Regions from separate parts of the Homo sapiens genome. Here regions 2, 3, 4, 5 and 6 are each reported to be linked to region 1. Evidence: microRNA targets listed by miRTarBase, many of them from high-throughput screens and not tested one by one. Region 1 holds a microRNA gene; each other region holds the end of a gene's coding sequence.

What was found. The annotated mature microRNA hsa-miR-6858-5p reads GUGAGGAGGGGCUGGCAGGGAC and lies in region 1 at 1,663-1,684, opposite strand. An mRNA with a match to its seed (bases 2 to 7 or 8) in the 3' UTR can be bound and repressed. Matches are read on the target gene's strand: a 7mer-m8 pairs with bases 2 to 8, a 7mer-A1 pairs with bases 2 to 7 and ends in A, and an 8mer does both.
Region 2: miRTarBase lists HMGCS1 as a target of hsa-miR-6858-5p. Seed matches in the 3' UTR shown: 7mer-A1 at 3,438-3,444 and 8mer at 3,818-3,825.
Region 3: miRTarBase lists SLC23A1 as a target of hsa-miR-6858-5p. The part of its 3' UTR that is shown has no 7-base or 8-base seed match.
Region 4: miRTarBase lists SLC38A4 as a target of hsa-miR-6858-5p. Seed matches in the 3' UTR shown: 7mer-m8 at 3,326-3,332.
Region 5: miRTarBase lists QSOX1 as a target of hsa-miR-6858-5p. Seed matches in the 3' UTR shown: 7mer-m8 at 858-864, 7mer-m8 at 973-979, 7mer-m8 at 2,577-2,583 and 7mer-A1 at 2,862-2,868.
Region 6: the mRNA of METTL21A is a reported target of hsa-miR-6858-5p. The part of its 3' UTR that is shown has no 7-base or 8-base seed match.

What each region holds. Positions count from the first base shown.
Region 1 is chrX:154,448,004-154,452,003 of GRCh38, reverse strand. MIR6858 (microRNA 6858) reads right to left here and starts at 1,684; the gene lies at 1,618-1,684. It overlaps FAM50A (family with sequence similarity 50 member A), which reads right to left. Exons shown (of 13, transcript NM_004699.4): 5 at 3,444-3,520; 6 at 3,248-3,314; 7 at 3,050-3,111; 8 at 2,707-2,783; 9 at 2,269-2,323; 10 at 2,073-2,121; 11 at 1,905-1,975; 12 at 1,685-1,795; 13 at 1,350-1,580. The coding sequence ends at 1,572.
Region 2 is chr5:43,287,329-43,291,422 of GRCh38, reverse strand. HMGCS1 (3-hydroxy-3-methylglutaryl-CoA synthase 1) reads left to right here. Exons shown (of 11, transcript NM_001098272.3): 11 at 203-3,953. The coding sequence ends at 292. Among named protein-coding and RNA genes, the nearest start is that of HMGCS1, 24 kb to the left of the region's middle.
Region 3 is chr5:139,368,367-139,372,470 of GRCh38, forward strand. SLC23A1 (solute carrier family 23 member 1) reads right to left here. Exons shown (of 15, transcript NM_005847.5): 14 at 3,621-3,887. The coding sequence ends at 3,640. It overlaps PAIP2 (poly(A) binding protein interacting protein 2), which reads left to right. Exons shown (of 4, transcript NM_016480.5): 4 at 367-1,351. The coding sequence ends at 432. Among named protein-coding and RNA genes, the nearest start is that of SLC23A1, 13 kb to the right of the region's middle.
Region 4 is chr12:46,763,031-46,767,134 of GRCh38, forward strand. SLC38A4 (solute carrier family 38 member 4) reads right to left here. Exons shown (of 17, transcript NM_018018.5): 17 at 1,731-3,772. The coding sequence ends at 3,671. Among named protein-coding and RNA genes, the nearest start is that of SLC38A4, 61 kb to the right of the region's middle.
Region 5 is chr1:180,196,596-180,200,699 of GRCh38, forward strand. It overlaps QSOX1 (quiescin sulfhydryl oxidase 1), which reads left to right. Exons shown (of 12, transcript NM_002826.5): 12 at 1-4,104. The coding sequence ends at 442. Among named protein-coding and RNA genes, the nearest start is that of LHX4, 32 kb to the right of the region's middle.
Region 6 is chr2:207,609,318-207,613,421 of GRCh38, reverse strand. It overlaps METTL21A (methyltransferase 21A, HSPA lysine), which reads left to right. Exons shown (of 4, transcript NM_001127395.5): 4 at 1-683. The coding sequence ends at 376. Among named protein-coding and RNA genes, the nearest start is that of METTL21A, 14 kb to the left of the region's middle.

The DNA of each region.
Region 1 (4,000 bases):
CATCAAATAGCCTACTCAGCCAAACACAGTGGCTCACACCTGCAATCCCAGCAATTTGGGAGGCTGAGGTGGCAGGATCACTTGAGCCCAGCAGTTCGAGACCAGCCTGGGCAACAGAGCAATATCCCATCTCTACAAAAAAAATTTTTTTTTAATTCTGTTCCAATTTTCATGTACATAAAAATAAAAATAGCTGGGCATTGTGGTGCACACCTGTAGTCCCAGCTACTCAGGAGGCTGAGGCGGGAGGATCACTTGAGCCCAGGAGGTGGGGGCTGCAGCGAGCTGAGATTGCACCACTGCACTCCAGCCTGGGAGACAGAGCAAGACCCAGTCTCAAAAAAAAAAAAGAAAGAGGAAAGGAAGGAGAGGGGAGGGGAGGGGAGGGAAGAAAGAAGGAAGGAAGGAAGGAAGAAGGAAGGAAGGAGGGAAGGAAAAGAAAAGAAAGAAAACATTAGTCTACTCTCATCTCTATTCCTAGTGACGCCAGGTGGCTACTTCCCGGCCACGCTGAATGAGACACTGGGCCTCTGCACTATCGGGCACCATCAGATCTCCACATTTGCCAGGAAGGGGAGGCCAGACCCAGGGCTGGGGTGATCCTGGCCAGTGAGGGGCTATCCCCTGCCCTTTCTTCTTGGCTTCAGGCCAGGGGAGGAAACAGGGAGCTGTCAGCTGGCCTTCCTCAGCCTCCTGGAGCCAGGCCTGCCTGCCTCAGCTTAGCCAAGTGGAACTTGGGGAATCAGCTGCTGAGGTGGCAGAGTAGGGGTCCTGGACCTACCCCCGATCTGGATCCTGCCCCAAGGGCTGTCTGAGCAGGGCTAGCTAGGGCAGGGCAGGCAAGTGTCGAGCACAGGGCACCACAGCAGAACGACTGTGCTGGGACGGCCCACAGCAAGGAAGGCAGGATGGGTTTTCGTGGCCACAGGACGGCCACGTCCCCTACGGGAAACTCAACAGGAGCCCAAGGGCCTGGGAGAGAGGCCTGGGGAGGAACCCCCTTCCCACCCACCAGAGCCACCACCGCCCAAGGACAGGTGCCCACGGTCAAGAAGCACAGTGCCACAAAGACACCTCAGGGATGGTGGGGCTGCCACGGTGACAGACTCCCCAGGCACGTATGACACGTCCAGAACAGGTCAATCCATGGAGACAGAAAGCACATGAGAGCCTGGTGGGGGGATGTGAGGGGAGGAGCCTGCCTATGGCCACAGGGCCTTTGGAGGGATGAGAATGTCCTGGAAGCAGACCAGGGTGATGACTACACAACATGGCAAATGTGCTAAATGCCACCAAATTGTACAGTTTTAAATGGTCAAAATGACAAATGAATTTGGTCCGAACACAAATGGTTTCTCACAATGCAGGCGCTCCAGCTCTGACACGTGCACTTCTTTATTGGAAAAGAATAAAGCAGTCACTGATGTGGCAGGGGCAGGACACGAGCAGCTGCCGTCCTCCTCCCAGCGTGCCTGGCATGGTCGCAGGGGAGCGGGTGCCTGGAGTCCCGGTGACACCACGGGGCACACTGAGGGAGCTGAGGAGCCGGGGCCGCGCAGCCTCCTGGATGCTCAGCGGATCTAGTGTGAGGACAAGGTGGGCAGAGGAGACAAGGAAGGCGAGGGGTGAGCAGGGGCTGGCTGCCGTCCCCAACTTGGAGGGGTCCCTGCCAGCCCCTCCTCACCGTGTACTTGTCCCACTTCTTTTCAGGGTCGTAGGGTTCCCAGCGGCTGGCGGGAAAGATGTGCTTGTTCTTCTCGTACCAGCTCCTCAGCACCACCTTGCCTGCATGGGACTAAGGGAGGAAGAGGGCACAGGGCCGCCTGCTGACCTCCCCTTCCCTTGGCTTCTCCTCCATAGCCCAGGGACACCCGTTCCCCCTCACACGGCCCCCTACGCTGTACCTCATCCTTCTCCACAGTGGCGTCACTGAGCAACCGCACATCGTCATGAACATCAAAGTTGAAGAGTGGTCCTGCAGGGGAGAAGTGACAGCCCAATGTCCCGCTGCTGCCCCAGTGACAACATCGGCGGCAAGGTGCTATGGGGGCGGCTGGGTCGGCGGCACTCACCACTCTTCCCCCGTGCCTTGGTGACGATGAAGTCGTAGAAGCTGTGATGCTGGGAGCCAAGGGCAGGAAAGCGGCGTCTTGATGGTCCATCTCGGCCCCTCCCCACACCCCCCGCCTGCGCACACTGCCCCCACCAGCCTGAGCCAAAGCCCAGGGTGCTGCACCCACTGCGGGTACTGGGGCTGAAGGGACTCACGTGAGGGATGATCAAGTCCTCCTTGATGTACATGAGCTGCTCCACCCCTGCGGACCTGAGGGAGGAAGGCAGGAGGGCGTGGGCAAGAGGACAGCACCCCTGCCCAGGGAGGGAGGAGACAGCCAGCCCAGGAGAGCCCATGCTGGGGCTGGGAAGCAGCGGCCAGTTGGCTGTGAGGGAAGCTCCATGGTTTAGTGAGCACAGGACTGGCGCCCAGCACCCTCCACCTTTGGGCTAAGGAACCAAGGCAGGCCGCTCTCAGCAAAGCTCTCTGGTGGGAGGGAAGGGAAGAGGAGCCTGACCCCCTCTTTTGGGAGGAGAGTGCCCAGCACGCTGCTTGCTTGCCCAGACAGCGCCCACATCACACTGGGTGTCTGGCACCCAGGCTGGAGCCACAGGTGCCACACACACCACCGTGCACACACGCACACCTCACACCTCAGCTCACTGAAGTCTTTCCGAAGGATCTCGAGCGCCTTCTGCAGGAACTGCTGCATGGTGTTGCCCTTTCTCATCTGTATCCGGGAATCCAGGAGTTGGGAAGGGAAGGCGGAAGCCTGCAGAAGGGCTCTCAACAAGGCAGAGGCCCAGAGGGCCCTGCCAGACGCTGCAGAGCCTCAGCCAGGCCTGGGCCTCACTCCCCAGACAGGGGGCCAGGCCCTGGAGCCAGTTATCCTCAGGATCCCTGGGGCTTCCCAAGTCAGGAAGGTCAGTTCCTTCCCACGGAACCTGAGGGAGGCTGGGCCCATGGTGAGCAGGAAGCAGGCTGCACGCTGCCTACCTTGACTGTCCGCCGGTGCCCAGAGCCATCCCAGTAGCTGAAGGTGATCTCGATCTCCTCACCTACAAGGCAGAGCTGCCTCTTGGTCTCCAGCCCCACTGAGAGCAGCCTTGGGGCTCAGCGCACCACCCAGGAGACTGTGGACAGGGAAGCTGGCTTGGGCCCAGGCCCCTCGCGTCTGACTCCGCAAACACTCACTCTTGATCTTCTCCTGCTTGGCTTCCCACTCCTGCCGCAGCTCTTCCCGAAGCCGATTCTCCTCCTCCTGGGAGAGGGAGCAGGCAGACAGGTGAGGCCCAGGGCTGCTCAGGGTGCACGCAGAGCCTGGCTCCCTAAGCAAGGGTCTCCACCAGGGCTGGAGTCGAGGCCGGGGTCAGGGCCAGGCAGCCTTTACCTCACGGTCTCGATCAGGCAAGAAGCTTGTGTCAACGTCTGGGTTCTTCCCCAGTTTTCTCTTCTTCGTGGTGATCTCTGGAACAAAAGGAAGCCGAATATCATAGCATTATTATAAAAATGATTTTGATATGGCCGACGCCCAGGGTCCCCCAAGCATACCTTGAGAACAGTCGATCTAGAAGACAAGCCTAGGGCGGGCACAGAGGCTCACGCTTGTCAACCCAACACTTGGGGAGGATGAGGCAGAAGGATCACTTGAGCCCAGGAGGTGGAGACCAGCATGGGCAACATAGCAAGACCTCGTCTCTACTAAAACTCAAAAAAATCAGCCGGGTGTGGTGGCGCACCTGTAGTACCAGCTACTCAGAAGGCTGAGGTGGGAGGATCGCTTGAGCCTGCGAGGTCGGGGCTGCAGTGAGCCGTGATCAAACCACTGCACTCTAGCCTGGGCAACAGAGTGAGACCTCATCTCAAAAAAAAAAAAAAGAAAGAAAAAAAAGAAAAGAACAACAAAAAAAGACAAATCTAAACTCTTTAGCCTGATGCTCAAGGGCA
Region 2 (4,094 bases), not on the chromosome of region 1:
GATAATTGTATACTAAATTCACCATAAGGTGAAAAATGGATATTGAGTTCCCTTCATGAAAAGTTATATAAAATATATATTTAGCATAAACTTCTCCAGAGTTGTCCTTTATTAAGTTTCTTTACAGAAACTTTAATTGGTGCCATGATTCTTGTGGGGGAAAGAATCATAAGAGCCATCAACTTTTTTCCTTTCATTTTAGCATATTCCAAGCCCTGCCAAGAAAGTACCAAGACTCCCTGCCACAGCAGCAGAACCTGAAGCAGCTGTCATTAGTAATGGGGAACATTAAGATACTCTGTGAGGTGCAAGACTTCAGGGTGGGGTGGGCATGGGGTGGGGGTATGGGAACAGTTGGAGGAATGGGATATCTGGGGATAATTTTAAAGGATTACATGTTATGTAAATTTTTATGTGACTGACATGGAGCCTGGATGACTATCGTGTACTTGGGAAAGTCTCTTTGCTCTATTTGCTGACATGCTTCCTGTTGTGGTCTGGCCAATGCCAAATGTACTCGAATGATGTTAAGGGCTCTGTAAAACTTCATACCTCTTTGGCCATTTGTATGCATGATGTTTGGTTTTTAAACATGGTATAATGAATTGTGTACTTCTGTCAGAAGAAAGCAGAGGTACTAATCTCCAATTAAAAAATTTTTTAACATGTAAGAATTTTGTACTTTGAACAACAAGATTACAGAAAGTACCTGTGGTTTTTGGAAAACATTTCTAGCTTGGGGAATGTGACAACATTCCCCAGTGTGGTAAAATTGGGGTAAAATGTGGTAAAATGTGATACGCACAAACCCTTTGAAAATAGCAAAACAAACATGCCCTTTTTCTAAAATTGATAAATCCTAAAGAGGAAGAAAAGAGCTGGGACAATAAAACACTGGCTCTGGAATCTGGAATGTTAAGTCCAGGCCAGCAGTGACAAAAGTTATTGTAATGACCTCTGAACAGAGAAACACTGCCATTGAAGAGGCTTCTGGTATAGAAAACATGGTACATTCAGGAGCTGTGAATATAGCTCTAGGTGTGCTCCTGAATCAGTTCATGGTAGATTATGCTGAACAACAGTGAGATGTTATTGGAGGTGTGGATGAGGGAGTTTGTTGTTGCAGTCCTTCTTTGCACCTTATTTTAAAGAATAAATGAAACATTTTTCTGGTTACTTTTTTAAAAATTTAAAATGGAAGGGAAGAATAGGGGCAGGGCATTATTAGGCTATTTCTGATGCTTCAGTGTTATAAATTCAACATAGAGGCTGACAACCTAAATTCATGGTGTAACACAGCTCTTTTCCTTTTCCTTTTTTTTTTTTTTTTGGTATCTGTTCAATGAAAATAAGGTATGACCCAAGTTTTTACCTAGTCTGACTAGAAGTATTCCACTTCAAGGTCTGAAGTAGGACTTTTACCTTAAAAAACAACAACAAACAAAACTATCACACAGGATAGATAAGAAGATTGGTTAAACAGTTTTGTGTAGATCTTTTTGGTGCTGAACTATGACATGAGCCTTATAGATTGTAAAATAGGGATAGTTGGAACTAATGTACAGAACTAAATTTTTTAAACTTTATTTGCTGTTAAATTCTGTGAAGTTTCAGTTATCTAAAATAAATATACACAAATATGAAATATAATGTTTCAGATTGCAAGGTAATATGTAATAGTAGTGTTTGTAAGATACTCTTGTCTAATATTAACTAGTAGTATTTTGATTTGTACAGTCATAATTTGTTAAAATGACTTCATTTAACATTCACTGATGTAGATTAATAATGTAAGTTCTGATTTAAAGAATGGTGGCAAAATGGTGCATGTAATACTTTTGCAAGTGTTGGGGAGATCGGTATGTTTTGAAAAGAGTAATTTAACTTTTGGGTGCCAGGAAATGGGTTTTCTCAAAGTCCATTGCCGGCAATGGGCAGGCCTGCAAATACTGGCACAGAGCATTAATCATACACCTTATTAACGGTGAGGTGAATAACTTTGAAATAAAGTTTTAGAGAAATGTTTCAGATACTTGAGTATTCTTTTTCACTCTTGAACTAACAACTTCGGCAAGAAATCAGCTAATATTCTATTTTTAAATATGGGCATTAATTTCATTTCAGTTCGTTCACTCATTCCATTCATTTATCATTTCACAAACATTTGAAATCCTAATATAAGCAAGGTGCTCTGTTTAAGGCAGAAATTTGAAAATGTACAAGATATATGGTCTTGTCTTTAAGGAGCTGTTCATCTAGAATGGAGGAATTTACACTGATAATTATTCCTACACTTGAAACAAAGAAATTAACTCTCAAATTGCGTGGCAAGCATATATAGACTTTGCTATAAATATTTATGAAATGAGTTACTGTTTTCCTTAAAAAAGCTAAGACTAAGGGCTGGCAATCAAATAAGAGCAAATTTAGTGGTGAACGTAGAACTGCCCACTACCAGCTAGAGTCTCCAACCTAAAAGTCCCATGTTGCTAGTGATCCCCAGGGGTTTTATAGAAGGAATCCCTGCATTGGCAGTAATTTTGGATTAGATGATCCCTAAGAGCACCATCAAGTCTTAGGATTCTATGAATTAGGAAATAAACCAAATTATATATTTTCTAATACTGATCAGCTCATATTTTATCATCATGTCATGTCTGGCTTTCATACTTAGTCATAATTTACTTTCTGGGTCATTTAGAGGCTAGCGTTCTCTAAGGTCACTTCTGCTTGCACATTGTAGGATATTATTTAGTATGGCTTTAAGAATTCAATCTTTCCCCCTCTCCTTTATGGAATGTGTGTTTCCTCTATTTGTACACTTAACCTTTTGTCCTAAGTTTTTATTTTTATGGATACTAATGAGTAACTTTGAGGTTGACACTAGACCCAAACAGATGCAAACAGCCACTTTCTGTCCTCTTGTGACACAGTTGAAACACTTTATCTCTTGTCTGCTGTTTGGAGTGTCCTGAAAGAAACACTGAAGTGGCAGTCAACAGAGCAAGGGTAACAGGATCTTTAAATAATTTAAAGTTGTCTGATCTTGACATAAAAGTGAACCCTTTCTTTAAAATTTCTAGCAACTGCTCTTAAGTCATAGGTTCCTCATTTTTTCTTTGCTGGTAGTGGGAGAAAATAGTTGATCTGTGATTTTTGTTTTCATCTCCCCAAACTATGTTATAAAGGCAGTAATTTGATGCTGAAGATTATGATTAGAAATCCTCAGATGGGTTATATATTGGGGCTTTATCTTTTAATATTAAAAAGAATGTCTTTCCTGGACTACTTTATTCAGTAGTAAGCACTATTCATTCTATGTATATTCCTTATTCAGCCTTGCAGACTCCTGTGGGATCTGATCTCTTCCTGCTTCAACTCAGTACCATACTCACCAAGGCTTAGTATGTCTTCACCCACTCTCCCTTCTCTTGCATTCCTCAAACATGCTGAGTTTATTCCAGCCTTAAGCCTTTGATCTACGCATCAGAAATGTTGGGCCCCACTTCAGATCTTCTCTGCCCTGCCTTCTACTCCAGTCACTGCTGTGGTAACTAATTCCATGAAGTCTTTGACCAGGTTCTCAGAGAATATGATAGTACCTCTCTTTGGATTCTAGCTGTATACCTTTCACTTCAGCCTCCCTGACGTGGAATGTCTGCAGAACTTGTTTGGTACTCCCAATTGCACAGCCCAAAGGTGCAGGGGAGTTAGGTGCCCATGGGGCCATCCTTGACCTAGGTGGAAAGTTGCTAGTGGATAACTGATTACTCTTTTCATCACCTGGGCAGACAGTTCTGAAATGCATTTCGTAAGTCTCCTCAAAAGAGGAGGAGACTTCTGTGGCGGGTTTGGCAATAACCATCCTTATATTGGCTTTCCTCTTTTGTTTCACTCCTGTGCATCTCTCTTGCATCCTGGGATCGCTTCTCAAATAAATGACTTTCATTCAAGCTTTTCTCTCAGGCTCTGTTTTTTGGGGAATCCAAACTAAGACGATTGGTACCCAGAATGGCCCTAGAAAGCAGGCATTCAGGATGGGAGATTGGAGCTGGTTTACTCACCAAATGACAAAAACCTCATTGCAGAATGAT
Region 3 (4,104 bases), not on the chromosome of region 1:
AAAATACAAAAAATTAGTTGGGTGTGGTGGCACGCGCCTGTAGTCCCAGCTACTCAGGAGGCTGAGGCAGGAGAATCGCTTGAACCCAGGTGGCAGAGGTTGCAGTAAGCCTAGATTGTGCCACTGCACTCCAGCCTGGGCGACAGAGCAAGACTCCGTCACAAAAAAAGAAAAGAAAAAGTTGATGTAATTTAATATGATATATAGCTTACATCTGGTTCTTCCTTTTTGGGGTTTAGTATAGTCTTACAGACTGAGTTCTTTTGTCTTTTTTTTTTTGGAAGATGTTTTTGCATGAGGATCTAGATTGAATTAGTACCTGAAACTGTGTTAATGAACTTGCTTTTTTATGTACTTATTTTCCAGGTCAAGAGCAATCTGAATCCAAATGCAAAGGAGTTTGTTCCTGGGGTGAAGTACGGAAATATTTGAGTAGACGGGGCCCTCTTTTGGTGGATGTAGCACAATTTCCACACTGTGAAGGCAGTATTAGAAGACTTAATTGTAAAAGCTCTCTTGTCACTGTGTTACACTTATGCATTGCCAAAGTTTTTGTTAGTCTTGCATGCTTAATAAAAGTGCTGAGACTGTTACTAAGTAAAAAGCTGTCAAACATTTACTGAAAATAGAATTGGCCCCATGGCTTGATGTGAAGACAGCAAGGAAAGAAGCACCAGTCAAGTTGTGAACAAGCACCAAATTAAAAGACCTAAACCTTACCAAATTGTCTTTTTTTGAGGCTAATCTATCACTTGTTAATGTCTAAACTTTAAAATCAGTACATTTAATTTGAGTTCCAACTGTTAAGCATATTTCTCAGACTTAAATTTGATTATGTCCCCATCAAAAAGAATCTCCATTTTCTGAAGGTCTGTTAGTTAATTTGAGATAATTTGTTAAAGGCAAGTATGTCATATTACTGAGGCTACAAGTTAGTCAGCAGATGAGTGCCAGTCCAGCCTTTTCTGGTATGTTATTGTTAGAAATATTGAGTTCTAATGTTACATCTGAGGAAGTATGTAATTTGAGAATTGTAACTTCTAAGGGATTCACTGCATCATAGCTATGCCTGTATGGAGTCTAACATATGACCAATACCAACCCATAATCCAGCTGAACAAAGATACTGTAACATGATTTGAGTGGTGCTTTTCCTTGCTTTGTTAACCATCACGAGAGTCTGCAGCACAACTTTTAACAAAGCTAGAACAGTTTTGGCTTCTTAAACTTCATATTTGGGTAGGTTAAGCTGCCATACGTGTTCAGTGTGAATAGTGTTTAAGTTGAAAATATTGTAAAAAAATTATATTTTTTCAAAAATATTTAAAAAAATAAATAATAGTAGAACTGAGCAGATGGTTGTGTTTATTGGTGCTGGAATGTACTGTAGTGGTGTTACTCACTTGAGTATGGGCCCAGTGCCTCAGGACAATCTTGCTGGCAAAATGTGCTAAGCTTTCAGGCTTTGTTAGATTCTAACAGGTATGTTGCCATGCAAGTACCTTTCCAGAATATAGCAGTAGAATAACTCCATTGCCCATCCTTGCTTCTTAATCACCTCAGACTTCAGTGTCAGGGGAATCCTAGATAGTCATGTAAGAAACTTTATGGCTGACCAATATGATGGTGACCTTACTCTAATAGAACCTCCATTGTTTTTTGTTCTTCACAAGGGCTTTTTTTGAGCTTATTAGGTTGAAAAAGATTAAGAGAGCCATATAGTCAGTTCTGACTCACATTCTTCTGGCAGTGGGTATGGGGGAGGTTCTTTGGTGTGGGCACCTGTACCCCAGTGTGTGGTTGGTTGGTTGGTTGGTTTTTGGAGACGGAGTCCTGCTCTGTTGCCCAGGCTGAAGTACAGTGGCACGATCTCAGCTCACTGCAACCTTCACCTCCCAGGTTCAAGTGATTCTCCTGCCTCAGCCTCCCAAATAGCTAGGATTACAGTTGTGTGCCACCACACCTGGCTAATTTTTGTATTTTTAGTAGAGACCGAGTTTCACCATGTTAGCCGGGCTGGTCTTGAACTCCTGACTTCAGGTTATCCACCTGCCTCGGCCTCCCAAAGTGCTGAGATTACAGGCGTGAGCCACCGCACCCAGCCTTTATTTATTTATTTATTTATTTATTTATTTATTTATTTTCAAGACAGAGTCTCACTCTGTCACCAAGGCTGGAGTGCAGTCATGCAATCTCAGTTCAATGCAACCTCTGCCTCCTGGGCTCAAGTGATTCTCCTGTCTCAGCCTCAAGTAGCTGGGATTACAGGCGCCTACCACCACGCCTGGCTAATTTTTGTATTTTTTTAGTAGAGATGCGGTTTTGCCATGTTGGCCAGGCTGGACTCGAACTCCTGACCTCAGGTGATCGCCCTTAAGAGTAAAGATTCTTGAATGTGGCTTTTGTTGGGAAAAAAATTTAAAAAAAGAAAAGGGGGCTCTAGGCTGGGTGCGGTGGCTCACGCCTGTAATCCCAGTACTTTGGGAGGTCAAGGTAGGTGGATCATTTGAGGTTAGGAGTTTGAGACCAGCCTGGCCAACATGGTGAAACTCCATCTCTACAAAAATAAGCTGGGCATGGTGGTAGACGCCTGTAATCCCAGCTACTCAGAAGGCTGAGACAGGAGAATTGCTTGAACCCGGGAGGTGGAGGTTGCAGTGAGCCGAGATGGCGCCACTGCACTCCAGCCTGGGCGACAGAGCAAGACTCTGTCTCAAAAAAAAAGGAAAAGGGAACTCTAGCCAGACTTCCTGGATGTGAATCCTGTGATCATGGGCATATCACTTAACCTTTCTGTACCTTCCTTTCCACATCTCTAAAATAGCAGTAATAACTGTCTCTGGATTATGTGAGTAGTTAATATATATAAGTACTTAAGACATAGAAAGTCCTGTTTTAAGTGTTGTTATTTTTACTATTAAGGAGTCATCTAGGCTAACCTCTCTTTTTGGGAACTTTTCTTGTCTGTCTGAGGGAACGTGCACATTGAACCCACTTCAGTGTTTAGTAGAGAGCCAGGCATCTGCATTACAGATAGTGATGGAAGGTTTCCGAGCATCAGCTGCCCATGCGTTCTGAAGACCTAAGGACAAAGTGTCACCTCATCAGGGCTTGTACAGGCATCGTTTTAGGATAAAGGCATCCTGTTTTAAAGGGTTTTAATTTTATGACGTTATTGAGACAAGGCAGTGTATATGAGAGGATTTTTCCTGTTCTTGTGCTGCATTTCTCAACATTTTCCATGTCGCATATCAAAGTGATACTTGTTTAGCATACTGGAGTACAAGAATGAGGCTGCCAGTGGCTAGAGTTCTTAGCTCAAGGACTCCAATTGGCCCAGATTCTGCCCAGGTGTCTGGAAGGCTAGAGGATCTGCATTTCAGCATACTTGTAGCCTCTTAGTGGCCCACACTAGTTGGGAAGTTCTGCTGTTACTATGAAATGGTAAAGGAATTCCACCCAAAATCCGTATGTTGACTTTTTACCCAGCTCACCTTCTCTTTGAGGACATTCAAACAGTTTACAAGAAAGAGAACTGAGTAGTTTGGTTTTTCTTTGGTTAAAGCATAAGAATGTTTTGATTATTCAACCCTCCCACAAAAACCATAGACACATCCTACCTTTCCTGGAAGTCATTTTTCAGACCTTGGTGCACACAGATGCAGTTTCTGTATTTTCTGGAGTGTCTTCTGGAATTGCAATCTGATCTTTTGAACTTGAAGAAAATCCTTTGAAGACTGGGCAGATAGGAATGTATTTCAGAAAGGTAATTCTTTTTACTATGCCCATCCCAATGGGGAAATCGTAGCTCTTGAGGCTGGAAGACATGTCACTGTTGGCATGAGCCCCAGCTTTCCACTGTATCAGACCACGCTCCTCTGGGCTCCCTGGAAGAGGATAGTGAGGTCATTTACCAAGGCCAGCAACCCTCAGCCACCCCCACTTCCCATAACCCAGTCCTAAGGCAGACTTCTGGAATCAAGTATCTTCCTTAACTATCATTTGGTCCTAAAACGTGGCTGAATCTATGGTTTCTGAGCTCCTAACTTGGCCAGAGCTCTAAGGAACACTAAAGGATACTAGTTATAGTAGTATTTATTGTGT
Region 4 (4,104 bases), not on the chromosome of region 1:
ATCTTTCCTTCATTTCTTCTTCTTTCCTGATACTCCAACATTTCTCCTTTTATCATTTACTTTGTGTTTGAAGAACTTCCTTTAGTCAATCTTTAAGGGCAGGTGTGCAACAAATTACAGGTTTAGGATTTAAGTTTGGAGGATAGGAGTTGTATTAGTTTATTCTCATATTGCTATAAAGAAATACCAGAGACTGGATAATTTATAAAGAAAAGAGGTTTAATTGGTTAATGGTTCTGCAGGCTGTGCAGGAATTATGATGCTGGCATCTGCTTGGCTTCTGGGGAGGCCTCAGGAAACTCACAATCATAGTGGAAGGTGAAGAGGGAGCTGGCACTTCACAAGGCCAGAGCAGAAGGAAAAGAGAAGTGGGAAATGCCACACACTTTTAAACAACTAGATTTTGAGATCACTCATTCACTTTCACTATGACAGTACCAAAAGGGATGGTGTTAAACCAAAACCACCCCCATGATCCAATCACCTCCCACCAGGCCCCACTTCCAACATTAGAGATTACAATTCTACATGAGATTTGGTGGGGACACAGATCCATACCATGTCAAGAGGCTTCTGAGGCTTCTTTTTAAAATTTCTGTCATTTTTTTCTTGGTATAGTTTTTGCCTTGTGGCTAGTTTTAATGTATGCTGATCTAGTTTGCCTTTATAAAGATGTTTAATTTAAAATAAGTTTTTCCAAGTACTATTTTTGTTTTTTTGTTTTTTTTTTTTGCATCTTGGTTAGATGATCCAGTCCTACCTATATGGGCCCAGGACATCAAAACATTTAATTTTGACTATACCACTCTGATTAATTTTATCTCATTAAGACATAAATTGCAAAACTTTGAGCTATGGTGACCTGGCCCCAGAAAGATGTAATTAAGACACCTTTAGGAAAATAAGCAACCATACCATAGACTGGGAAAATATATTGGCAATCTGGACATGGATCCATATTTAAAGAGCTTCTACAAATACCCAATAAAAACACATAACCTAAATTTTAAAAATGGGCAAAAGATTTGAATACACACTTCACAAAAGAAGATATATGAGTGACCATTAAACACTTGAAAAGTTTTCAACATTAGTTGTCACAGAAGCAGAAATGAAAATCACAATGAGTTACCATTTCAGACCCACTAGAAAGGCTAAAATGCAAAAGACAACACCAAATGTTGGCAGGGCTGTGGAGTCAGTGGAAGTTGTAGGTAGTACGGGTGGAAATGAAAATGGTAGAAACACTGTGGAAAACTATGTGGAAGTTTCTTATAAAGTTAAGCATATACTTACCCTGTGATCCGTCAATCCCCCTAATCGTTCATTCATAATCAATCCTTAGCACTCACATGTTTTCCCTGCCCCCATATTTTCTCTGCTCTTTATTTTACTATTCTCAGGTTTCTTCTATTCTCTCATTTTCTATCTTCAATGGATTCTTTCAAACTAACCATAAAAGACTCATTTCTTCCACATTCATTCTAGGTGGTATATATGTGATGCCAAAATTATAATCATCATAATAATTTAGGATTAAATATCTATTTTGCCAAAATAAGATGGCAATTATTTTCAGGATGATGGCTATAGATGTTAGTTATGTGTCAAAGGTAACAATGAAAATGGAACATAAACCAATATAAGAAAGACAGTATTTGGATTTTAAATTTTGTTTCATGGACAAATAACACAACATTCTTTAACAATAGATCAAAAATCACATCATAGTCATTTGAAAAGTTCATTTATTATATACCAATATACACTTTCTGTAATAAAAAAGAAGCCTCCCAATACATTGAGCCATCTTATAAATGAAATAAGAAAATAAAATTTTCATCTGTTTACAAATGGGGTTAAATTAATCAGCACAAGCTATCATATGTATGTCTGCCCTGCAGTATATATGAATTTTAATCCTGGTTATGAAGAAAAAAATGGTGCTTTATTATTTGGCACTATAGGATGCTCTTGAACATTCAGAAGATACCTTTTTCCACTTTTTATTTTTGTATACTTTTTAGATGAGTGAAAATGTAAATATATCCTAAAGATGCTATTTGGCAGATTTTTTTCAAATAATAGTAGCTCAAAAGTACGTGTATGATACTTGTACTTCATAATTGGCTTTACTAAAATATAAAATACACAAGTGATCTTACTATGATTTGAAAAAAAGGTAGTGAACTCCAGAAGTTTTAGGCTGTGAGTAGGAATTTTTAAATCCATTTTATGTAAGTTTGTTATAGAAGTGAGCAAGAATGATCGTGTGCATTTCTTCGTAGTGTTAGCACTTATACTTTTACAGAGAACCACTCAACACTGTATTAAATGGCCAATGAATGTCAGCAAACACCTGTGTGAGCTAAACTGAACTAAATCCTATTTTAGATATGCTAAATTAAAAGAACAACTTTAGTATGATAAAAATTTGCAAAAAGAAACTTATTTTCTTGTAGATCATCCTATTATTGTAAATATTGAAGAAGAGCATTGCCAAACTATATATAACTTAGGTTTCAAATTTAAATTATCCCCAGACATTTGTAGACAGATACATATGAATGGATTTTCGAGCCCACCAACTTAATTCCCTGCCCCCACCCCCAATAATATAAATGCTTTGACTGTGAAGAAAGAAAACTACACATGTAAAAAATAAAAATCAAATGTACCTTACATTAACATTCTGATGACTACAGAATAAGATTATATACATAAACATATAGCAAATCACAGTTTCCTGCACTGAATGTTTATCAAATAAAAATGTATCAAACAATACTGGGTAGTGTATCTCCACGATTGTGGTCTTCTAAAAATTCTGAATGAGGATGGAAGACGAGAGGGAGAGCATTGTTCAATGACAAAAGTATGACAAGAGGATTTAGGAATAACATGAAAAAGCAGATGCTTTCTAGAACAGGCAGTTTAGCTATAAGCATTATTTTTGTTGTTGCTCTATGATTGAAATAAAGCCCCTCTCTATATTTAGTGTTTTAACATTTAAATATAGATGTTTTAACATTTACAAAAATCTATTGAATATAGAAGTCACAACTCAATGTCACAAACAGGGTGGGCAAAATATTATTTTGCTGTTGACAATAAGATGCTCTAGACTGGTGTTTGACCATTCATGTACCTTACAGAAACAGAAACAGTTCCTAAGACATGCCTTTTGCCTCTGTTAGTAAACAGACCAGAGACTTTGGTGCAAGACTGAGAGAAGACATTAAATGGTGATAGCTTTGCCACCAGGGCATTTTTGTTTGATGTTCTGAGAATGCAAATGTTTGGTACTTTTTTAGGGGGTGCAGGATGAGGAGACGGCAGGGGAAAGAGTACTATCTGATGATTGTTACATGCAGTTACCCTTATTCTGCTCGTAAAGCAGCAAAAATACACCTTCATCATCTCACACTGCTCTAGCAAAACCTGGGTAGAAATGTGCACCACAGGTTTTATTTTAAACACATACACAACCATCCTTGACAAAAACAGTGATTTTCCTCTTCTGCAGGTGCCTGGTGATATTACTGGTAAACGTCTTTGGAATCTTCCTGTTATTTCCTATGAATAACATTCCAATCAAGATAATTCAAATATCTTTTGGAGTATAACTTGTAACCATTTCCAATAGAAAAAGAAAGTATTTTTCCTTGTGTTAGTGATGCTTGGAATTTGGAGGATCATAAATCCAGTCAATTATAATGAGTGCCATGCTTCCAATCATGAAGAATATTCCAACCACAAGGAAAATTAAAGCCTGTAATTCAGAGAGACTCTGTTAGGAGCACAGAAACCATACTTAGTACAATTTGTTTTTTAGTTGTTTACATAATATGGCAATCTGATCTATATATTGAGCCATATTATTCTTAATATCTCAGATGCCCAGGCCTAACCTATCAGTCAATTTAGAATCCTAGTTGAAGAAAGAAGAGGAATACAGTGGAGAGATACAACCTACAGGTTCAACAATGGAGTAATAGTTAATTGATTTAGTACACCAAGATGATGGAATACCCTGTGATTATTAAAAATCAAGGGACAGAAAAAGATTCAATAATCTAGAGAATGCTTACAATCTTTTAGGTG
Region 5 (4,104 bases), not on the chromosome of region 1:
TGAGGCAAGTCGACCCCCGAAGCTGCACCCTGGCCTCAGAGCTGCACCAGGCCAGGAGCCTCCTGAGCACATGGCAGAGCTTCAGAGGAATGAGCAGGAGCAGCCGCTTGGGCAGTGGCACTTGAGCAAGCGAGACACAGGGGCTGCATTGCTGGCTGAGTCCAGGGCTGAGAAGAACCGCCTCTGGGGCCCTTTGGAGGTCAGGCGCGTGGGCCGCAGCTCCAAGCAGCTGGTCGACATCCCTGAGGGCCAGCTGGAGGCCCGAGCTGGACGGGGCCGAGGCCAGTGGCTGCAGGTGCTGGGAGGGGGCTTCTCTTACCTGGACATCAGCCTCTGTGTGGGGCTCTATTCCCTGTCCTTCATGGGCCTGCTGGCCATGTACACCTACTTCCAGGCCAAGATAAGGGCCCTGAAGGGCCATGCTGGCCACCCTGCAGCCTGAACCACCTGGGGAGGAGGCGGGAGAGGGAGCTGCCATCTCTAGGCACCTCAAGCCCCCTGACCCCATTCCCTCCCCTCCCACCCCTTGCTCCTTGTCTGGCCTAGAAGTGTGGGAAATTCAGGAAAACGAGTTGCTCCAGTGAAGCTTCTTGGGGTTGCTAGGACAGAGAGCTCCTTTGACACAAAAGACAGGAGCAGGGTCCAGGTTCCCCTGCTGTGCAGGGAGGGCAGCCCCGGGCAGTGGGCATAGGGCAGCTCAGTCCCTGGCCTCTTAGCACCACATTCCTGTTTTTCAGCTTATTTGAAGTCCTGCCTCATTCTCACTGGAGCCTCAGTCTCTCCTGCTTGGTCTTGGCCCTCAACTGGGGCAAGTGAAGCCAGAGGAGGGTCCCCCAGCTGGGTGGGCTGGAATGGAACTCCTCACTAGCTGCTGGGGCTCCGCCCACCCTGCTCCCTTCCGGACAATGAAGAAGCCTTTGCACCCTGGGAGGAAGGACCACCCCGGGCCCTCTATGCCTGGCCAGCCTCCAGCTCCTCAGACCTCCTGGGTGGGGTTTGGCTTCAGGGTGGGGTTTGGAAGCTTCTGGAAGTCGTGCTGGTCTCCCAGGTGAGGCAAGCCATGGTTGCTGGGCTGTAGGGTGAGTGGCTTGCTTGGTGGGACCTGACGAGTTGGTGGCATGGGAAGGATGTGGGTCTCTAGTGCCTTGCCCTGGCTTAGCTGCAGGAGAAGATGGCTGCTTTCACTTCCCCCCATTGAGCTCTGCTCCCTCTGAGCCTGGTCTTTTGTCCTTTTTTATTTTGGTCTCCAAGATGAATGCTCATCTTTGGAGGGTGCCAGGTAGAAGCTAGGGAGGGGAGTGTCTTCTCTCTCCAGGTTTCACCTTCCAGTGTGCAGAAGTTAGAAGGGTCTGGCGGGGGCAGTGCCTTACACATGCTTGATTCCCACGCTACCCCCTGCCTTGGGAGGTGTGTGGAATAAATTATTTTTGTTAAGGCAAGCATTGGTGTGTTCTTTAACTTGCTACTTGGAGACCTAGTGTCCAGTCTGGACAGAATGCACAGAGACCAGCCTCACCTGGAATGCAGCCAGACTCGATGTCCCTCAGCACACACAGCTCCTGGCCACAGACTGCCCATAGAACTGTCTGCACCCAAACCCCATGGCCTTTTCATGCACGGAGACAGGCCTCTGGATGTGCAGCCTTGCCACCCCCTGCCCCAATCCTCCCTGAGAGCTCCTGCCTCAGTGCCCTGGGCTGGTGAGGGAGAAGCCTGTCTGCACCTGCCTAATTCCAGCTCCTCCAGGAAGCAAGGGCTTGTTTGTCAGAGCTGCAGGGTTGGCCACTCGGTGGGGAGGAGTCAGCCAGGATTAGAGAGCCTGCCCCTAATCCGGCCTGCTGGGTTTTACAAGGATCAGAGCTGCTGATAATGAACCTCATTAAGGGGGAGCAGGAGCCTCAATCCGATTTGGTTTTCTCTTTGACATCTTCACTCTGCTCAGATGGCCTGGGTGCTATGTGGAGCAGGTGGGATGCCAAGGCCACTCCTGCTATGGGGCAGCTGGGGCTGGGGAGGGATGGCAGTCTCCCTGCATGTTTCCCTCGACCTCTTTAGCTGCAGCGCCTTGCTGGGCTCCTGGGTTGGACTCCCTCTCTGTGCCCCTGCTCCAGGCACCCATTGGCTCCATCCTCCTGGTTGTGCTCTGCACCCCCTGCTCCCTTGGGCTGGCCCTGGCTGGGGGCCTGAGAGACAGACAGGAACCCACAATCAGGAGGCAACCCTGGCCTGCAAGAGGAAGACAGAGGCTCCCAGGGCCGGTGCCCTGTGTGCCCACTGCACCAAGGCCGCTGAATAAGCCTGCCCTTCACCCCCTAAGGGCTCCTTGCCCAATGCCAAGTGCTGGGGATTTCTGTCAGCAAGCCCTGTGGCTCCAGTGACGGTATTTCTAAAGCCAAACTTAGTTACCTAGAATTAGCGCCATGTTGGAAACACTGTCGCAGCAGCCCGGGCTGCACAGTGTGTAGCCCAGCCTCCAGGTCCACGGAGTGGTGTGGACCTCCCACCTCACAGCTGCCTCTGGCAGCCAAGCCTCTTTTCGCCCGGCCCCAGCCCCTCTGGTTGATAAACGGGTGGGCCTCCTCAGCAGCGTGGCTGCCTTTCACCTTGATTTCCCCAGGGCTCTCGGCAACATCGATAAACCAGCCTCGCCCACCAGCTGGGCCCTCCCCCACCCAGTCTGCCAGGCTGGGAGCTGGAGCTTGCTGAGTCTTGAATGCCCTTCTAGATGGCTTCTCTAGAGGCTCTCCTGGCAAGAGAGGGTCCCAAGGGGAGCCCTGCAAAGCAAAGGCTCCTTGTCTGGGGCGGGATAGAGAATCTCGCCTCTGTCTGGTGTGTTACCTACTGGGGGCACAGGAACAATTTCCTCAAGGAGACAGTGGCATGGAGCTTTGAAAGACGAGTAGGTGTTAGCAAGGAAATAAGGAGGAACGGGGGTTACGGGCAGAGGAGAAAGCACATGCCAAGTCAGCAAAGAAAAGTAGAATTCGAAAACTTTTTAAAAATATTACTAAGGATTTTCACAATGCTGCACTGGGCTAGAAACTGAAGCTAAAACAGATACGTGGTCCCTGCTGCTATGGGGCTTCCGTTCTAGAGGCAAGGACAGGTTGTGATGAGGGTTCTGAAGGATAGAGACCAAGCAGGGAGGGTGTTGAGGAGGCTTCTGCGAGACCTGAAGGATGGGAAGCCAGGAAGTGGGAGGGGTGGGGGTCCAGGCTGGAGGGGCCCAATGTAGGTGTAGAGGGACTACAGCCCTGAGGGGCTGCTCCATGCGGCATTCTTGGAGGTCCAAGAGGGGCAGCGCCACCTTGGGCCAGGCTCCTCTCCAGCAGCCTTGGTATGGGGTGGGGGTGGGAAGACCCCTGATGCAGCCTGTCCTCTGGGTGTGGGGGTGGAGGAGAGGGCTCCAGGGGACCCAGCCAGCCTTGACCCTGGAGGAAAGTCAGGTGGGCTCAGAGAGAGCCCTCAAATCTGGGCCCTGGGTCAGGGTGGGGTCAAGTCCAGCCTTGAAGAGAATGGACTCTGGAATCTGACGTCTGGGTTTGAATCCAGCTTCCAACACTCACTGGCTGTGTGACTTTGGGCAAGATAACTTATCCCCTTGTCCCCATGTGTCATTGGAGATAAACTACCCACCTACCAGATTGTTGTACCATGCTGGGCAAACACTAAGTGCTTAATAATGGTAGCCCACTGCTCATGTCGTGTCGTCTCCTGTCTTGATACCTGAAAACTCAAGGGGCCCTGTTGTGCTTGGAGGGGGGTGCCGTTCCCACAGGATATTCTGTGAAGGGTGTCCCTGGAGCTGGGCCTCCAGGTGGCAAGCCCCAAGCCACCCCGGCAGGTGCCACTGGCCAGAGTTGAACTGAGGTGTTGAGTGGAAAGTGCCTCCCCACCCCCATCTGCCACAGTAGTATGGATTTCCTTCATGAGATGGGGCTCCTAAAATGCCTGAAATGTGTATGCTGTTGGAGAATTGATGTGTATGATTTATTGAACTTTGCACTCATTTAAATCTCATTTAATCCTCCAACAACGCAAGATGAAGAAGCTGAGGCTTAAAGAGATTAAGAAACATCCTATCCCCTTTACTCCCACCAAAAT
Region 6 (4,104 bases), not on the chromosome of region 1:
TCGAAAAGTAGCATTAGAATTTCTTAAATCAAACGTTCAAGCCAACTTACCTCCTCATATCCAAACTAAAACTGTTGTTAAGGAGCTGACTTGGGGACAAAATTTGGGGAGTTTTTCTCCTGGAGAATTTGACCTGATACTTGGTGCTGATATCATATATTTAGAAGAAACATTCACAGATCTTCTTCAGACACTGGAACATCTCTGTAGCAATCACTCTGTGATTCTTTTAGCATGCCGAATTCGCTATGAACGGGATAACAACTTCTTAGCAATGCTGGAGAGGCAATTTACTGTGAGAAAGGTTCACTACGATCCTGAAAAAGATGTACATATTTACGAAGCACAGAAGAGAAACCAGAAGGAGGACTTATAATTGGCTATAATTTATAAGAATGTTGTCATTGAGTGTGTCACTTAAGGTCTTAGACTGCAAATCTAACCATATTTAATGAAATGTCTTACTGTACAAAAAGTCTAAGCCAAAGGTTCTCAGGGGAGAAAGCACATGTGCAGTTTTAAAACAAAGCAGTGCTTTGTCCCATTGCTGTGATTTTTAGTCAGACTTTACTCAGTCTGAAATGCAATTAACATTAAAGGATTAAGTGTGAGATTTCGATTTATGCTATTTGTGTATCCCATACTCCTCCCTTTTAATAAACAGTTTCCACTGATGATATGAAGGGCCGGTATAAAGAAGTCTTTAAATGAGTAAGCTTTCTTGGTAAGATTAAATCTTACAAATTATTTTTAAAACCTTGTGATATATACAATGTTTAGCTGAGTTTTCTAATTTTCTGGATGTAAAACAAAAGGTTTAACCTATACATTCCTTGAGCTGTTAGTGCTATTTAAATCTTTTGCCCTGTTTAGGTCCTAAACACTTTTAGTTGAGTAGGATATGAGCTTTTTTGGGTCTCATATCATGCTTTTTGCCTTAATTTCAGGTATATATATATATATAAATAAAGGAATTAAGTAAAAATAAAATTTCAGTTACTTTTTAAAAGCACCTGAAATCTGGCCGGATGCGGTGGCTCATGCCTGTAATCCCACCACTTTGGGAGGCCGAGGCGGGCAGATCACCTGAGGTCAGGAGTTCAAGACCAGCCTGGCCAACATGGTGAAACCCCATCTCTACTAAAAATACAAAAATTAGCCGGGCGTGGTGTCAGGCGCCTGTAATCCCAGCTACTCAGGAGGCTGAGGCAGGAGAATCGCTTGAACCTGGGAGGCAGAGGTTGCAGTGAGCTGAGATTGCACCATTGTACTCCAGCCTGGGGGACAAGAGCGAGACTCCATCTCAAAAAAAAAAAAAAAAAAAAAAAAAAAAAGCACCTGAAATCTTGAATAGGTTTTCTTTTTTTTTTTTTTTTTTTAATTAATTTATTTTTTTTTTATTGATCATTCTTGGGTGTTTCTCGCAGAGGGGGATTTGGCAGGGTCATAGGACAATAGTGGAGGGAAGGTCAGCAGATAAACAAGTGAACAAAGGTCTCTGGTTTTCCTAGGCAGAGGACCCTGCGGCCTTGGCCTTCCGCAGTGTTTGTGTCCCTGGGTACTTAAGATTAGGGAGTGGTGATGACTCTTAACGAGCATGCTGCCTTCAAGCATCTGTTTAACAAAGCACATCTTGCACCGCCCTTAATCCATTTAACCCTGAGTGGACACAGCACATGTTTCAGAGAGCACAGGGTTGGGGATAAGGTCACAGATCAACAGGATCCCAAGGCAGAAGAATTTTTCTTAGTACAGAACAAAATGAAAAGTCTCCCATGTCTACTTCTATCCACACAGACCCGGCAACCATCCGATTTCTCAATTTTTTCCCCACCCTTCCCGCCTTTCTATTCCACAAAACCGCCATTGTCATCGTGGCCCATCCCCAATGAGCCGCTGGGCACACCTCCCAGACGGGGTCGTGGCCGGGCAGAGGGGCTCCTCACTTCCCAGTAGGGGCGGCCGGGCAGAAGCGCCCCTCACCTCCCGGATGGGGCGGCTGGCCGGGCGGGGGGCTGACCCCCCCACCACCCTCCCGGACGGGGCGGCTGGCCAGGCAGAGGGGCTCCTCACTTCCCAGTAGGGACGGCCGGGCAGACGCGCCCCTCACCTCCTGGATAGGGCGGCTGGCTGGGCGGGGGGCTGTCCCCCCCACCTCCCTCCCGGACGGGGCGGCTGGCCGGGCAGAGGGGTCCTCACTTCCCAGTAGGGGCGGCCGGGCAGAGGCGCCCCTCACCTCCCGGACGGGGCGGCCGGCCGGAAGGGGGGCTGACCCCCCCCACCTCCCTCCCGGACCGGGCGGCTGGCCGACCCCCCCCCCCCCCCCCGCCTCCCTCCCGGACGGGGCGGCTGGCCGGGCAGAGGGGCTCCTCACTTTCCAGTAGGGGCGGCCGGGCAGAGGCGCCCCTCACCTCCCGGACGGGGCGACTGGCCAGGCGGGGGGCTGACCCCCCCACCTCCCTCCCGGATGGGGCAGCTGGCCAGGTGGGAGGATGACCCCCCCACCTCCCTCCCGGGCGGGGCGGCTGGCCGGGCAGAGGGGCTCCTCACTTCCCAGTAGGGGCGGCCGGGCAGAGGCGCCCCTCACCTCCCGGATGGGGCGGCTGGCCAGGCGGGGGGCTGATCCCCCCACCTCCCTCCCGGACGGGGCGGCTGGCCAGGCAGAGGGGCTCCTCACTTCCCAGTAGGGGCGGCCGGGCAGAGGAGCCCCTCACCTCCCGGACGGGGCGGCTGGCCGGGCGGGGGGCTGACCCCCCCCACCTCCCTCCCGGACGGGGTGGCTGCTGGGCGGAGACGCTCCTCACTTCCCAGACGGGGTGGTTGCCGGACGGAGGGGCTCCTCACTTCTCAGACGGGGCGGTTGCCAGGCAGAGGGTTTCCTCACTTCTCAGACGGAGCGGCCGGGCAGAGACGCTCCCCACCTCCCAGACAGGGCTGCGGCCCAGCAGAGGCGCTCCTCACATCCCAGACAGGGCGGCGGGGCAGAGGTGCTCCCCACATCTCAGACGATGGGCGGCCGGGCAGAGACGCTCCTCACTTCCTAGATGGGATGGCGGCGGGGAAGAGGCGCTCCTCGCTTCCCAGATGGGATGGCGGCCGGGCAGAGACGCTCCTCACTTTCCAGACTGGGCAGCCAGGCAGAGGGGCTCCTCACATCCCAGACGATGGGTGGCCAAGCAGAGACGCTCCTCACTTCCCAGACGGGGTGGCGGCCAGGCAGAGGCTGCAATCTCGGCTCTCCGGGAGGCCAAGGCAGGCGGCTGGGAGGTGGTTGCAGCGAGCCGAGATCACGCCACTGCACTCCAGCCTGGGCACCATTGAGCACTGAGTGAACGAGACTCCATCTGCAATCCCGGCACCTCGGGAGGCCGAGGCTGGCGGATCACTCGCGGCTAGGAGCTGGAGACCAGCCCGGCCAACACAGCGAAACCCCGTCTCCACCAAAAAAAACCGAAAACCAGTCAGGCGTGGCGGTGCGCGCCTGCAATCGCAGGCACTCGGCAGGCTGAGGCAGGAGAATCAGGCAGGGAGGTTGCAGTGAGCCGAGATGGCAGCAGTACCGTCCAGCCTTGGCTCGGCATCAGAGGGAGACCGTGGAGGGAGAGGGAGAGGGAGAGGGAGAGGGAGGGGGAGGGAGAGGGAGAGGGAGGGAATAGGTTTTCTATTTCAAGTCAAGAGCTGAGGTTTTCCCCTTCTGTTTTACCCTTGCTCAAATGTCTTAATGCAGTTCTTTCCCAAGCTTTCCCTGCTTCCTTAACAACGCATAGGATGACATTAAAAGTTTTAAATCTCATCCCTGCCTGAGAGGTTAGCTTCCTACATATAAGCTCCTTTTGTATTGGACTTGTAATTGCTCATTCAGTGGTAGTATTGCCCTGTAGAGTGTAAGCTCCTTGAGGGCCAAGAATGCTTCTGCCTCTTCCATTGTTGCTTCCCCAGTACCTTCTGTATATTTCATAACCAAATAATGAAAAAGATACATTCCATTTAAAGGGCATTGACTTTGGGTTAAATGATTGTTATATTGTTTTAGGATTATCTATGATACACTTTGACATCTCACACACACACATGAACTTTTCTTTTTACAATGCAAAAGTTTAA